Regions from separate parts of the Homo sapiens genome. Here region 1 is linked to region 2. The links come from fine-mapping of genetic effects on gene expression. A gene starts in region 2. The other region holds a variant in brackets. All regions are shown on one strand. Distances are from middle to middle. Region 1 overlaps ENPP4 (ectonucleotide pyrophosphatase/phosphodiesterase 4). Region 2 holds the start of ENPP5 (ectonucleotide pyrophosphatase/phosphodiesterase family member 5).

The links. PIP is the estimated chance that this variant, and not a neighbour inherited with it, causes the effect.
Region 1: its variant is the best candidate, but not a certain one, in a credible set for the expression of ENPP5 in whole blood (TOPMed, PIP 0.51).

Annotation. Positions count from the first base shown.
Region 1 is chr6:46,132,836-46,135,652 of GRCh38, forward strand. All of the region lies in intron 1 of ENPP4 (ectonucleotide pyrophosphatase/phosphodiesterase 4), which reads left to right. Among named protein-coding and RNA genes, the nearest start is that of ENPP4, 4.3 kb to the left of the region's middle. The variant A/G (reference allele first, on the strand shown) is at 1,260.
Region 2 is chr6:46,169,363-46,172,179 of GRCh38, forward strand. It overlaps ENPP5 (ectonucleotide pyrophosphatase/phosphodiesterase family member 5), which reads right to left and starts at 1,618. Exons shown (of 5, transcript NM_001290072.2): 1 at 1,446-1,618; 2 at 691-752. RefSeq lists a silencer at 1,790-1,849.

The DNA.
Region 1 (2,817 bases), 37 kb before region 2:
GTGGTTTGTAGTTCTCCTTGAAGAGGTCCTTCACATCCCTTGTAAGTTGGATTCCTAGGTATTTTATTCTCTTTGAAGCAATTGTGAATGGGAGTTCACTCATGATTTGGCTGTTTGTCTGTTGTTGATGTATAAGAATGCTTGTGATTTTTGCACATTGATTTTGTATCCTGAGACTTTGCTGAAGTTGCTTATCAGCTTAAGGAGATTCTGGGCTGAGACAATGGGGTTTTCTAGATATACAATCATGTCGTCTGCAAACAGGGACAATTTGACTTAATTTGGAAGAAATTTTGATGAAAGGACAAGGAGTAATGGAGGGAGGTATTTTACTATGTAGAAAGTAAGATAAGTGTAAGTGTTTTGAAGCTGCTAGAAAACTTTGTGTATGCTAGAAATTTCTGTGTATTTTACAAAATTGGAGAATAATTTAGAATCCTACGATTTTTAAGACTAAGGAATTTTTAAGGAGTATATTTTTTTCCTTAGACTATAAGAAAGCAACTGATAATAATCTAAAGATAACTGCCTTATTTATAGTCATAGAATAAAGTTTTTAAAGGTGTATGAGAGTTTCATTGTATTACAGAGCAGATGGCGTGCTAATAGTGACAAATATCTTTCACCATATCCTGTAATGGTTTATACTCTCTTGGCTTCACATGGGCTAGGAATGCCAGTGAGAGTTGACTGCATTCCATCCAGGGAAGAACGTCTTCCCAGAGAAATTAGAAGGTAGTTTGTCCCCTGAATTGAAGACTAACTCATACTTCCATTTGTTGTAGGGATATTTGGTTGCAGTCCAGAGAGGTCTGCTTTTTTTCTTCTCTTTGACATCTTTTTGGTGTGAAAAATTACAGAATTTCTCTCAATGTTTTATACTGTAACAGTTTCATTCCCTGCAAACTTTATTTTCATTCCTTGGAAACTGCTTGAGAACTTCTCATTGTTGGTTTGTCTGTAGCTTAACACTCCCTATTAGAATGAGACAGAATGTGGCAGACATGGATCCGGCACTGCTAATAAAAGGTGTTCTATCAGGAAGAGTTCTGTTAATAGTTTGGAGATTATTATCAGACTTGTTAACTTGCTATTACTGGACTTGTAAACTTATTGAGGACATGAAATTAGTAAGAACACAGTGAAGCAACTGATTGCTTTCTGAGCCCGGCTAATCACTGGACTTTAGCTTCATCATAAGCAAAGTCATATGCAAGGTCATCATATGCGAAGAGATGAGACTAAATTATTCCTAATGT[A/G]TTTTATAGTTTCACAATAATATTCTGCCTATCATAGTACAGTCTTGTTTTTTTTCCCAACATCTTTGTAACTAGAATGATAAAGGGAAACTAATTTTGAGGGCCTATTCTGTAACCTTTACACATCCTCATTTTACACACAAGGAAACAGAAGCCAAGAAAAGTTGGATCTACCCAAGATCACCCATCTACTAATTGTGAGTTCAGGTTCTGGGACCCTTCTGACTTCAGTCTATAGTCTTTCCACTTTGTCTGTACTACTTATCCTGAGAACAAGGACTGGGACGCTTGGATCCCAGCAGTGTGCTGAGGGATTACTGAGCCACAGGATTAACAGCATGTGTTCCTGGAGCATCCTTTTAACTCAAGATTTGAGGAAGAAGCATTTTGATTTGTGTTTTGTGGGAGAGGACGGACACAGGTTTTTGGTCTGTTTTGCACATGGGAAGTGGTATAAAACTTTCACATTAAAACACTCAAGTGTGTATTTTGGAGTATAAAATTCACTTTTTTGAGGTAAAATGAGATCAAAAATGTTTCCTGTTTTGTGGCAGGACATTTCAGATTACAATTTCACTTCCCTCTGCTCTTTTTTAAAAAATAATATTTTATTGAGATATAAATCACACACCATTCAATTCACTCATTTTAAGAGTACTGCTTTATGGAGCTGTGCAACTGTCATCACAATCAATTTGAAAACATTTTCATAACCCCAAAAATAAACTTTATACTTACTGGCATTTATTACCCATTTCCCCCCCAACCCCTGGCCCTAGATAGTTACTATAGTTACTTTTAGTCTCTATAGATTTGCCTGTTCTAGACATTTTATCTAAATGGAATCATATAATAAGTGATTTTTTGTGACTGCGTTCTTACATTTAGCGTATTTATCCAGGTTATAAAATGTGTTAGCACTTCCTTCCTTTTTGTGTCAAATAATATTTCATTATATGGATATATTACATTTTATTTATCCATTCATAAGTTAGTGCACATTGAGATGTTTCCACTTGATTCTTACAAATAATGCTGCTGTGAACATTTGTGTACAAGTTTTTGTGTGGACATATGTTTTCATTTCTCTTGAGCACATACCTAATAGTAGAATTGCTGGGTTATATGGTAGCCCTATGTTTAACCCTTTGAAGACTGCCAGAATATTTTCCAAAGTGGCTGTACCATTTCACATTTCCAGTAGCAGTTTATAAAGGTTTCAATTTCTCTATCAACACTTGTTGTTATCTATTTTATTTACTCATCCTTCGGGGTGTGAAATGGTACCTTATTGTGGGTTTGATTGCATTTCTCTGATGACTAATGCTGTTGAGCATCTTTTCATGTGCTAATTTGTCATTTGTGTCTTCTTTGGAGAAATATCTTTTTCAGCTCATGCTCATTTTTTGACTGGATTATCTGACTTTTATTATTGAGTTGTAGCAATTCTTTATATAGTCTAGATACAAATCTCTTCAGATATATGATTTGCAAATATTTTCTTCCATTCTCTGGGTTGTCTTTTCACTTTCTTGATGGTATCCTTTGAGGCACGAGA
Region 2 (2,817 bases):
GCCTTTTGATATCTTCCTAAGCTGAAGACTTCTTTTTTTTTTTTTTTTGAGAGGGAGTCTCACTCTGTTGCCCAAGCTGGTGTGCGGTGGCACGATCTCAGCTTACTGCAACTTCCGCCTTCCGTGTTCAAGCAATTCTCCTGCCTCAGTCTCCCAAGTAGCTGGGACTACAGGCGCCCGCCACCACACCCAGCTAATTTTTGTATTTTCAGTAGAGACAGGGTTTCGCCATGTTGGCCAGCCTGGTCTCAAAACTGCTGACCTCAGGTGATTCACCCTTCTCGGCTCCCCAAAGTGCTGGGATTACAGGCATGAGCCACCGCAGCCGGCCTGAAGACATTTTTAAACTTCAAAAATATATCCTGTTTCACCTTGCTGTATTATAGGTACAGGTAAATAAAAACTACTTGGCATGCTTGCTTTGCTTTCAGAAATACAAGGTATATGTACATTGTGGGTATTCGCTGAGGGCAATAAATTCTGTTTTGCTGGTTTTAAACTGTGTTTTCACCATACCTAGACATTTCTTAAACTGAAATTGTTTTAGGTATTGGTCTCAAGATGATAGCTCAAATGTCATATTTAAAAACGATTTCTTGGATGGCAATACTCTCTCTGATTCTGGAAGGAACATTAAACACAGTTGCAGCAAGGAATAGCAAATAGGTTACTGCAAATATATTTACTCACCTATCTGGCTATGGATGGTAGTTGCTCTCTCTGTCCTTTCTCCCCCTAATTTTCTCTCCCACCTTTTTAAAACAAGGAAGGCTAGTATCAACCAAATGTAATTTAAGGCTAAAAGCAGAGGAAATAAACTACATGGAACACCTCATTTTCATCTATCTTAGCAAATTAATTCGGCACATGTGTAAGCAGGAGAAAACTGCTTTCTTGGGACCAACAAAAGTAAGCAAAGATTAAGTGTTGTCTAAAGCTTAGGAATGTTTGGCAAGAAGACTCAACATCACATCCATGACACAGAGCAATAAACAGAGGTGGGGGGTGGGGAATGAAAACAATCAGAATTTTTTTTTTTTTCGTGCACAAAATGCTGCACAAAACAGTGGAATCCCTGGATCTGGCTCCACATTTCATTGAGTACTTTCCAGTTCTTTCTCCCCTCCAACCCTTCCTCCACAAACAGACTTGGAGAGCAGGAAGGACGGGGCACCGATTAAACGGAAGAGGGAAAGTGCAGAAGGAGTAGGTTTGTGTAGCTCGGGTAGACGTCAAGGGCGGGGGTGTCCATCTTCTCCACCAGGATTCCATCCTAGCCACCCAGAATGGTCGCGGCGTAGGTTATGTTCCCAATTCCCAGTCATCCCGCCCACCGAGGCCTGGGCTTCTTAGATGTGCAGTGGCAAGGAGGGGACGTTGCTTTAGGGACCCAGAGGAGCAGTGTGGGTTCCCGGGAGGGAAGCCACCCACGCCCCTGGACTCACCCTCGCAGCGATCCGTTCAGTCCGTATTAGTTTGGAGCAACGGGAGGGAGGGTCTGGAGGAGACTCCCTCGGGCGCGCCGCGGGTAACGGCGGGAGGGTGACTGGAGGAACGCCCCCGGAACGCGCAGGAGCTCACCTGCGCTCAACTCTGGAGCGGAGCACCTGACCGCGCCGCTTCCCCGCCCCGCCTCCTGGCTTCTATTGGCTGCTGCAGAGATAGTCACTTCTGCCTGGGTTGCCCCCGAAAGCCAGGCTCCCAGGAGTAGCTGCACGGCCTGTCAATCAGCGGGGGCAGGGGCGGGCGCTGCCTGGGTTTGGAGGGTGGAGGGGGAGGGGACTCCCGGGGGCAGGGACCCATCTGGTAGGGCGAAGGCGTGGGATGGCCAATTGCTTGGTCACACACAAAACCTTCCGGCAACGTGCCTTTTCCAGGGGACCAGCTGTGCTGGAGTCAGTGATGCTGAGAGATTATTGCGTGTTACCCCAATGGTGGGTGTACTCTAACAGTCACTGTTTTTTGTTTAAAAGCGACTTGTATTCTCTGATTTCTTATCCCAGGCTTTTTTCCTTCCCCCGCCCCCCGCCCCCTGCCTTGTCACGAATTGGCGATGGGGCACACCATGGGCTTTGCTCTGAGGAACACCTGCACACCCGAGGATGCCAATGGGACGATGAAGTTTCATTCTTTTTATTAGTGGGTGTTATCTGCTTTACCTCAGAAAGAATTTATTAACCTAGTCAACTCTGCAGCCCCAACGTTTGCAGTCCAGGTTTTTGCAATTGAGGTCCCTGAGGTATATTTGTGGTGTACCTAGCATGGCACCTGAAATTGTGCGAATTAAACCAAGACAGGTTCAGAATTAGGTTAATTTGCACAGGAGAGAGGCTGAACAGCCACCCTCTCTGGTGGTGGCATCCGAGCTCCAGACTCTGTTTCTACCTTTGTTTGCAAAGTAAACATTAAAACTACAAACATCAGGCCTGATTACTCTTTCAGAAAGCCTTCAGTGCTTCTTGTGTGTTAGTGCCCCTATTTTGTCTTTTTCCGTACTGTAGTGGATTATTTTCTCAGTTTTTTTGGGATAATCAATGGCATTTTTAGGCCTGAGGGAGTGTAGGCAGGTACTTAGTTTGCCAGTATGATCCCAACTGTCTTTACCATAAATTATAGCAGTGATATCAAACTACCCTGAAAGAATTTGTCCATCTACACAATCCCAGCTAGAATTCTGACCTAATTAGAATTCTAGTTCTATCTGCAGTAGGCAATAATATCAGGTTGATTGTTACAATGTAAGTTTAACATCTAATTAGCTGGTAAAACTGGGAGCATATCTGCAATGGTGGTTTTGGCTCCTGCCCGGAGCTCGGA